3 linked regions of the Homo sapiens genome follow. The protein of the gene in region 2 purifies or fractionates together with the protein of the main gene of each other region. This does not show direct contact. Each region holds a gene or a part of one and is shown on either strand. Other genes may lie near its edges. The genes, in order: LUZP1, PPIP5K2 and ZC3H15.

The links.
Region 1: the proteins of PPIP5K2 (region 2) and LUZP1 purify together in Homo sapiens (affinity purification with mass spectrometry, with the first as the bait; one large-scale study listed by BioGRID). This does not show direct contact.
Region 3: the proteins of PPIP5K2 (region 2) and ZC3H15 fractionate together in Homo sapiens (co-fractionation; one large-scale study listed by BioGRID). This does not show direct contact.

What each region holds. Positions count from the first base shown.
Region 1 is NC_000001.11:23,083,441-23,086,263, forward strand, and holds the end of LUZP1 (leucine zipper protein 1), read right to left. Parts: 3' UTR 590-2,823; downstream 1-589.
Region 2 is NC_000005.10:103,123,261-103,126,919, forward strand, and holds part of PPIP5K2 (inositol hexakisphosphate and diphosphoinositol-pentakisphosphate kinase 2), read left to right. Parts: intron 1-3,659. UniProt on the Homo sapiens protein: Bifunctional inositol kinase that acts in concert with the IP6K kinases IP6K1, IP6K2 and IP6K3 to synthesize the diphosphate group-containing inositol pyrophosphates diphosphoinositol pentakisphosphate, PP-InsP5, and bis-diphosphoinositol tetrakisphosphate, (PP)2-InsP4.
Region 3 is NC_000002.12:186,496,211-186,499,869, reverse strand, and holds part of ZC3H15 (zinc finger CCCH domain-containing protein 15), read right to left. Parts: intron 1-3,659. UniProt on the Homo sapiens protein: Protects DRG1 from proteolytic degradation. Stimulates DRG1 GTPase activity likely by increasing the affinity for the potassium ions.

The sequences.
Region 1 (2,823 bases), on a different chromosome or scaffold from region 2:
TCCCACTGAGAAAATCCACCCTGGCATCTGGGCTCCTGATCAGCTGATGGAGCTCCTGATTTGACAAAGGAGCTTGCCTCCTTTGAATGACCTAGAGCACAGGGAGGAACTTGTCCATTAGTTTGGAATTGTGTTCTTCGTAAAGACTGAGGCAAGCAAGTGCTGTGAAATAACATCATCTTAGTCCCTTGGTGTGTGGGGTTTTTGTTTTTTTTTTATATTTTGAGAATAAAACTTCATATAAAATTGGCCCTCTCTTTTGTTCCTTTGAGTTGGAGTTACATACAAGATGGGGGCATTACTCCTTTGGAAATGCCAAGTTTATCCTATGGCAATAGTAATACATGTTTTCTCCATGTTTAAATAAGGAAGAAGATGTTCATATAAAAGAGAAAAATGGTTTGATCAGGTCAGAAGATAAGGTAGGGGGGCCGGTCCTGTAGAAGCAGTGGACTTCCTGGTCAGTCGGACTAGGCTTCCTCACTTGGGTGGGGGTGGAGTGTGGTGGTGTGCCAAGAACATGGTTATTAGGAAACTTTGGATGCACTTTCAAGATAGAACACAAAAGAGCTGAAACAAAGTCTGAGCCTTTGGGAGACCAGTCTGCCTTTATTCCTGATTCCCTCCATGGGTATGTGCTAAAACTTCCCAATTCTACTAAAGGTGGTGGTGTACATTTTGGGAAGCGCACTACATAGGATCAAGGGCTTAGGTAACAGCTGGTTTAACAGATTGCCACAAACTTAGTGGCTCTTAAAAAAACAGAAATCTATTCGAAAGTTCTGGAAGCTTAAAGTCTAAAATGGGTACACAGGGCTGCATTCATTACAGAGGCTCTCAGAGCAGGGAGGATCAGTTCATTTCCTTGCTCTTTTCAGCTTCTAGGTGTGGGAAGGCTCGTGGCTCCTTCCTCCATCCTCAGAGCACATAACTCCAGTTTCTGCTTCCATCATCACATTGCCTTCTCCTGTAGTCAAATCTTTTGTCTCTCTCTTAAAAGGATACTACCTGTGATTACATTTAAGGCCCACCTGGATCATCTAGGATGTTCTGCCTCATCCCAGCATCCTTATCTGCAAAGTCCCTTTTGCCATATAAGATGATAAAAACATGTTACATGCTGGTTCCTTCCCAGGGGCTCCTGACTGACTGACAGATAGATGATAAACACTGTTACTGCAAATCCAAGTAATGTCCCTTAAATGTGGTTTTATTCTTTCTTACTGTGAGTTAAGGGACATCATTATATATATTGGTGATCTGACTGGAAGATGAAAACGGAGAAGGCTTTTCCCCCCCTAGTCTTAGAATTCGTGGCAGTAATGGAAAGAATCTGCACACCAGGATCAGGGCAGTTAATGTTTCCAGTCCTTGCAGTATCAGTAATTGGTTAGGTAAAATACCCAATTTTAAGTATTACACAATGAAATAAATAAATATACTAGAGCTGCGCCAACGCATAGAAGACAGATGATACACAGGGATGACATTGACAAAACTGGCATCACAGACTCGCACAGAGTATACGGAAACGAGGGAGCTTTATTGGTTACATATTGTACTGCAGAGCCAACAGAGAGCATTCGCGCCAGAGGATACATGCAGACAGGCAGCTCCAATGATACACATGCACCCAAGGAGCCCTGAGCCACTGCTTTGCCCTGGTTTCCAGCGACAGGTTCTGGCCTCCTTGGTCCCATGCTTGGAGCTGCTGCACCTAGACTCTAAGGGGCAGGGGTGAGAGAGACCAGAGCACCTGCCTGAGCAAGTAGGTGTGGACCAACAGGCTGCCCCCAACAAAGGGGCCTATAATGCAATAACAGTTTATTTGAGGGCTACTTTCTTAGCCCTCTCAATCTTTAAAATACAAAAAAATAGACTTTATTCTCTTAAAAATACATTCCATTCAGTATATGTTCTGAGCTGGGAAGCAGCAGGAAAATAGGGCCCCTTTCCTATGATCCTATGGTTGTGAGGCTTTGAGGAGAACCCTGCTCCCCACTCGGGGTATTCAAAAAATAATCCCTAAAAGCAGCTCTTTCCAAAGCAATCTTGTCAGAGAAATAACAAAACCTCATAACAAGGTAGCCAGGGACCCAGCCTCTGGGTCCCCATTCCTTTATTGGGAAGTGGTAGCACTTGGCACTGACCCACTAAATATAAAGAACTAAAACTGCCCCAGGACGACAAGTCCAAGAACACTATAGTGCCCCCTGCATCCCGAACACTCCACTGACGGGGGTTATTTATGTGCAAGCTTGCCTACAGCTGAGGGTGGGGTGGCATCCTTGGCCCCACTGCAGATCCCTTTAACCCACACTGTGACTCTTTCTCATTGCCACCCAAAAGCAAAAAACAGCCACAGCTTCTTTATCCACCTGCAGCTTTCTCTGGTTTAGTATCAGAGTGGCAAAAAAAGCAGCAGCACGTGGAAGAGATCAGCTGCTGGTACTAAGCCAGCTTCACTTCCTCCAACCAAGCAGCTCTATTGCCAGGTCCCCCAACTCACTAGGAACCCTCCAACAACCATACACCTGCCAGTAAAATTTAAGAGCCAAGCTGCGGAAGAAAACTGTCATAAAAGTGGGTTTGTTGACCGGGGGCAGTGGGACTATTTGGCTTGATTAAACAACTATTCAACTACCAGGTCTCCCCTCTACTTGGAGGCTTCCTCCAGGACCCCTGATGATGAGGCCTGGGTCCAAACAGTCACACCTCAGTTGCTTTTCAGAAACATGCCTCCCAACTTTGGGATTTGAGAGCCAGCCTTGCCAGCCATTTGAAGCCCAGAGAAACAGCCTCCAGCCTTTACTTGCTATTACA
Region 2 (3,659 bases):
ATGACTAGAGAGGTTCAATAACTTGACTAAGGACACAGAGCTGAGCAACTTGCAGAAAAAGTTTTCAAACCCAGTTTTGAGTCTAGAGCAATTGTTCTCATAGTGTGATTCCAGGACGACGAGCAACATCAGCATCACCTTGGAACTTTTGGAAAGGCAAAATATTGGGCCCCACCCCCAGAGTTTTGAGATTAGTATTAACAAGCCCTACAGGTGATTCTGTTGCATGCTAATGTTTGAGAACTACTGCATTGAGTGTGGACATTTTTAGTAGCATAACACTCATTTCAGATTTAGAAATCAGGTTTAAGGGATATTTGTCTTTTGTACAGTTAGATTCCCAAACCTGGCTGCTCATCCATTTGTAAAAATACAGTTTTTCTAGTTAAGAATTACTGTTTAGGAATTCCTAATCTGTGATAAGCCCAGTAACTTGTGTTTTTACAAGTCTACCAGATAATTCTGATGTAACCAGTCCATTTTGGGACCACTGCTATAGAAGGAATTCTAAAAATAAAGTAAGGTTCAACACTGATATTTGAATAATGTATGTATCTTTATGCCCAGACAGTTAGCATATGTTGAAATTAATGACTGAACATTGATCAAAATGCTAAATAATATGGAAGTGCTATATGTATAAACTGTACTTCGTTCAAGTATCAGCGCTTTAAGTGAAATAATACAAACCATTTTGAATGTCCTGCATCTCTTATGATGCTCATAAAATCTCATCTTGGCCGGGCGCGGTGGCTCACACCTGTAATCCCAGCACTTTGGGAGGCCGAGGCGGGAGGATCACGAGGTCAGGAGATTGAAACCATCCTGGCTAACACTGTGAAACTCCGTCTCTACTAAAAATACAAAAAATTAGCTGAGTGTGGTGGTGGGTGCCTGTAGTCCCAGCTACTTGGGAGGCTGAGGCAGGAGAATGGTGTGAACCCGGGAGGAGGAGCTTGTAGTGAGCCGAGATCGTGCCACTGCACTCCAACCTGGGGACAGAGCGAGACTCCATCTCAAAAAAAAAAAAAAAATCTCCTCTTGTACTACGACATATATCCTACTTAGGTGACAGAAATGTATTTGAATTTATTTTATATTTTTAGTTTTCTGAGAATTTATATTTGCCATGCTGTCATAAGGACTGTGGAGTCCTCATTTTTGCTCTTTAGTATAATGGCCTTTGGTTTAAACAGACCTGGGTTTGACTTCCATTTGCAACCCTTATTGGCTCTGTGATGATGATCAAATTACCTGAACTTTCTGAACCTCAAGTCTTAATTTATAATGACAAAATGGACACATATCTACATACATAAAACATTTATAAAATGAAGAATATATTTCTAATTCCAGGATGGCTGTGAGATTGTTAAATCACAAAGTAGTAAGTAATTTCTTCCCAACTTTTTTCATATTAAGGCATACCTAGAAAATGGTAGTATTTGTACAGTATCCTGGGGAAACTGAAGAGAGTGCTACTGGAAGCAACTGGCCAGGGTATAACAGCTGCCTTAAAGGCTGAGGCAATTAATTTCTTGGCATACTTACAATTCATTTATGGTGAGACAACATGTTGGGAGGCTCTGAATTTACAAGTAAGGTACTTACTAGGTAACAGTGCCTAATAAATGTTCCTTCCCTTGAGATTTATGTTGTGGAGGGATATACATAACCCAAGCTGTTAAATAACAAGGTTATATGTGACCAAAGGTCAAAACGAATGATTCGGAGAAGGTCTTGTAAATTGTTAAGGCAAGTTTTGTAGAGGAGTATCTATTGGATACTTGAGATGTGCCAACCACCAGAAGACAAAAATTCTGCTTCATCGGTTTTATCTCCTTTTTATTATAGGAAATTTCCTATAGTACTTGTTTTCAAAAACTGGTTCTCAAACTTGGCTACACATTGGAATTACCTGGGAAGACTTAAAATTACCCGAACTCTACTCTCAATCATTTTGATTTAAGTGATGTGGAGTATAGCCTAGACGTTGGGATACAAGCACTCTTAGTATATTATCTTACATATAACATCATTAAAATGACCTATGAGCTATGTACAATTTACAGATGAGGAAATTGAGGCCATAAGAAGTTAACTCACTTGCTCAAGATCAGCTAATTGGAGTCAGTCAGGTTTTAAACCCAGGTATTTTAACCCCTGAATCCATGCTCTTAACCACTAGCCTGTTCAGTTTTTTTTTTTTTATATGACATCTCTAAGTATCTCTCATATACTAAAGTGGAATAACAGAAAAAAAAAGAAAGGCTTCCTTCACTTTATGTCCTTTAGAGGTCCAATTCCTCTGTCCATCTTTTATAAACTCTTCAAAATAACTGTCTGTATAACTTGTCTGTATTTCATCTCCTTCTATTTTCTTGTTTGTTTGAGACAGAGTCTCACTCTGTTGCCCAGGCTGGAGTGCAGTGGTGCAATCCCGGCTTACTGCAACCTCCACCTCCAGGGTTCAAGTGATTCTCCTGCCCCAGCCTCCTGAGTAGCTGGGATTACAGGCGCATGCCACCATGCCGGGCTAATTTTTATATTTTAGCAGAGACGGGGTTTCACCATGTTGGCCAGACTGGTCTTGAACTCCTGGCCTCAAGTGATCCGCCTGCCTCAGCTTCCCTAAATGCAGTGCAATCACATTTAACAAATTGAAAATTCTTACTATGGCTTCTCAGTCCTTTGTGTGCATCTTAGCTACTTATCTGACATGATTTTTTACCATTTTTCCTTTGCTTGCCTGCTCTGCTCCACCTTACTCTTTCATGAACATGGGAAATATGCCAAGCATACTTCTGCTTTAGAGGCTTTATACTTGATGTTTCTTACCTGGAATGTTCACACCATATAACCCCATGGTTGGTTTCTCATTTAAATTAAATTTATATTTAAATGTCACCTTATTAAAGAGGTCTTTCTAACATGTATTTATTTGTTGATTTACCTAGTCCCTCACCAAATGAATGAATGAGACATGTTTCAGACCTAAGGTCATAATCAAATGAGGGACATATATCTATATACTTCATACAGCATTACAGACTTAAACAGAACTTGAATAAGTTAACAAAAGGGGACAGACCAGTCATTAATTCATACCCTTGGGAAAAAAAAATCTATTGGATACATACTTTTTTTTCCCCGAAAGTTGATTTCTACTTACACACATATTTTGTAAAGTATTTCAAAAATGTGGGAGAATTATATTGAAAAGACTATGTATTAGTCAGGGTTCTCTAGAGGGACAGAACTAATAGGATAGATATAGCTACAAATGGGAGTTTATTAAGTAGTATTAAGTCACACGATCGATCACAAGGTCCCACAATAGGCCATGTGCAAGCTGAGGAGCATGGAAGCCAATCCGAGTCCCAAAGCTGAAGAACTGGGAGTCTGATGTTTAAGAGCAGGAAGCAACCAGCACAGGAGAAAGATGCAGGCTGGGAGGCTAAGCTAGTCTATCTAGCCTTTTCACGTTTTTTTTTTTTTTTTCTGTCTGCCTTATATTCTAGCTGCACTGGCAGCTGATAAGATGGTGCCCACCCAGATTAAGGGTGGGTCTGCCTTTCCCGGAACACTGACTCAAATGTTTATCTCCTTTGGCAGCACCCTCACAGATACACCCATGATCAATACTTTGCATCCTTCAA
Region 3 (3,659 bases), on a different chromosome or scaffold from region 2:
CCAGAAACGTACAGGTTCATTTTGAAGATGAGACAAGCAAACATCCTGAAATGTACAGTCCCACATGATAATGAATTATACCACCCCAAAAACCTATATAGTGCCCTCATGGAAAAACACTGGGTTAGGTCAATGTAGGATATTAAACAAAACAATTCAAAACAAAACATGACATATAACATAGTTCCAGGCACACGATTTACATACCTAATATGATTAGAGGATTCATCCAAACATTTATACGTCAGGTCCTATGTTAGATGACAGAGAATACAATGAAAAGACAAAGATGCTTATTTAAAGAAGCTCAGAATCTAGCAGGATGACAGACATGTCAACAACTGTAACATAGTACATAGTGCTCTGGGAACAAAGAATGCCCATATACCTGAGAAAACTAAATTGAGCCAATAACCTTATGGATGAGTTTTTCTTGATGGGCAAGAAAAGAAATACAGAAAGAGCCAGCCAATGCAAAGTTACAGGGACTAGAGGAATAAAGTATGAGAAACATCAGTAAGATGCTTAGATTGCATCAGTAGCTTGAACAGAGTTCTCTCAACTGTTTAAAGTAACCCAATAACAAGGTCAGGTCACATTTTATAAAATATCAAGAGGGCAAGTTTTGTAGAGGATGGATTGGGAATCCAAGAATAAAGGCAAGAGGCTGCTGCAACTGCTGTACACAATAAAACACAAGAGCTTAAAATGAGCATTACTGGTAAGGATGGAGAAAAGGAGACAGAGCTGATAGGACTGACTGAACATGAAGTATAAAGGGGGAGGAATCTAGGATTATCATGTATATGGTTAGTGCCGTTAAACAAGACAGGGAATACAGGAGGAACAGGTTTCAGGGTAAGAGGTGAAGATGAGCTTAGTTTTAGACATACAGAGTGCAAGATGCTTACAAAGCATCTGGGTAGAGCTCTTTTGAAGGCAGATAGACATGCATATTGATTCCACTGAAATCAGAGAGGGTCTGCTTTGAGATAAAGACTTTAGAAATAGCAGCTTACAGGTAACAATTAAAACTTTGGGTATATGGTACTTAAGGAGAGCATAAAAAAGTGGCAAGAGTAAAGGACACTTCCTTGAAGAAAATCAACATAAAATGGGACAAAAGAACCTAAAAAGTCCAATAAAAAGACCTAGAAACATCAAAGAAGCAGGTAGAAAACCAGGACAAAATGTGTTCAAGAAAGAGGAAATTTTAGGAAAGGAATGGCCAAATGCTATAATTAGGTCAAAGACATCCCAAATCCTGAATATGACTCTATATGGTGGATGTGTTTAAACACAAAAAATGTTTTGAAAGAAAAAATTTAAGTCGCTTAATTTTTAATAGAAGTATCCTTTGCTCATCAGGCCCATCTCAAACATTTGTGGGGCAATGTTTGAGCAAGAATACAATGGAGGTCTACAAGCCATTTATCTAAATATTTAAAATTAGAAATCAAGTTCATGATGAATAAAATATGGTCTGTAACCCTACTCGACAAATATACCTTATGACCTGGAAGGACAGGTTCAAATTTAAAATGCTCAGACTCCATGGAGTTCCACACTGAAGCATGGCAGCAACACAAGAGTTAGCCCTGGGCTCTTTTTTCTCCTCTTCCCACCCCGTTTCATTCCATTTTGGGTGTAGGGGGAGGTAAAGGTGCAAGAAGGAAGGAAAGGGTATGGATGCAGGCTCTGTTCAAACCCTTAGCGTACACTGTTCTCTTGGCTACCTCAGACATATTGGTAGCACAATGGACAGAGATGGGCATGGTGGAGAGGCCTTTGTAGGCAGATAAACCAGGGTCAGAATGTTGTAGGAAGAGATGTTGCAAAATCTGGGTGGGTACATCCCCTTGGCTTCAGTGACTCCTTACCTGAGGGGAGACAGCAGTCTGGAGAAGACACATGTATCGCAGGGCCTAGACCAGGATACCCCCTGTCCAGCTCTAAGAGCAGCACTACTGCTCATTTCCGATGTTATATATGATGGGTAGGTACCCCATGTTCACAGATAAGTCCAGTTATCCACGCAAGTATCAAAAATATAGTATTAAATATACTATCAAAGCTAACTACCAGCACACACATTTCATAACTTTCCCAGGTTTATGAATTCTGATATCACCACTCAAAACACTTTCCACTAGAAGAAAAAGTTGGGGAAGAGAAAGCAGGATTGAAAAAGGGGCTAAGTGAAGAAAGTGAGTTCTTCTTACATATTGATATCTATATTCACCAGAAAATTTACATTATTTTCTTATTTAACCACCAGAAGAATCCAACAAAGAATAACTGCACTTCCACAGTACAGATAAAGACCAGGGTTGCTATTTAAGGATCATGTAACAAAAAAGATAGGAAGATTCACACCCAAGTCTATCTCACTGCAAGGTCTCAGCTGATCTGCCCGCCCCGGCCTCCCAAAGTGCTGGGATTACAGGCGTGAGCTCTAAACATTAATTTTTATTAAACCGGGCTATTAAGTTAGCAGTTTGGAAGAGCAATAGTTTTAGATTCTAGAATCAAGCTGGGAAAATGGATGTGAAAGGAAAGTGTTGGGTCACTGATTTGCAGACAGCATGAGCAAGAGAAATTTACTTATCTCACAAATACATATTAGCAGATTTTTAAAAAATCTGTAAACACATGAGAAATTCTTTCTTCTCTCCTACATTACAAAAATGTGTTTCCAGAAGTTAATGAAAAGGAGATAAAAATGGTGGAAAAATGTACTTTAAAAATAAAGATCCATGTCTATGAAATCTTTACAAGTGAGAGGTCTAAAGAACCTGAAAAAAAAAGGGGCTACATTTTTTTCAAATGAGTTGCCAATGGATAAACTCATTTTAAAATTCGTATGAAAGAATAAATGCCTAAGAACAACCAGGAAAAATAGAAAAGGTATACCATTTTGGGGAAAAGACTTGCCTTGAGACTTTAATGTACAGTCAAGCACAGAATTAATGACATTTAGGTCAATGAGGGACCACATATGACAGTAATCCTGTAAGGTTATAATACCATATTTTTACTCTATCTTTTCTATGTTCAGACACAAATCATTACTAATGTGTTACAACTGCCTACAGTATTCAGTACAGTAACATGCTGTATAAGTTAGAAGCCTTGGATCAATAGGCTATACCATATAGCCTAGGTGTGTAGTAGGCTGTAATATCTAGGTTTGTGTAAGTACACTCTATGATATTTGCACAATGACTAAATCGCCTAACGACACATTTCTCAGATTGTATCCACATCACTAAACAATGTATGACTATGACTGTAGGATAATAGTGGTATTTCAGTTGGATAAATGATGCTGGTGTAAGCAGCTATTCATTTAAAAGAAAACAAACTTAGTCTGGGCATGGTGGCTCACGTGTGTAATCCTAGCACTTTGGGAGGCCAAGGCAGGCGGATTGTGAGGCCACCCTGGGTGACACGGCGAAATCCCGTCTCTACAAAAAATACAAAAATTAGCTAGGTGTGGTGTCATGCGCCTGTAGTCCCAGCTACTTAGGAGGATGAGGCAGGTGGATGGCTTGAACCCAGGAGGCAGAGGCCGCAGTGAGCCAAGATCACACCATTGTATTCCTGCCTGGGCAACAGAGTGAGAACTTTAAGATATATAAAATAAATTCATATGACAT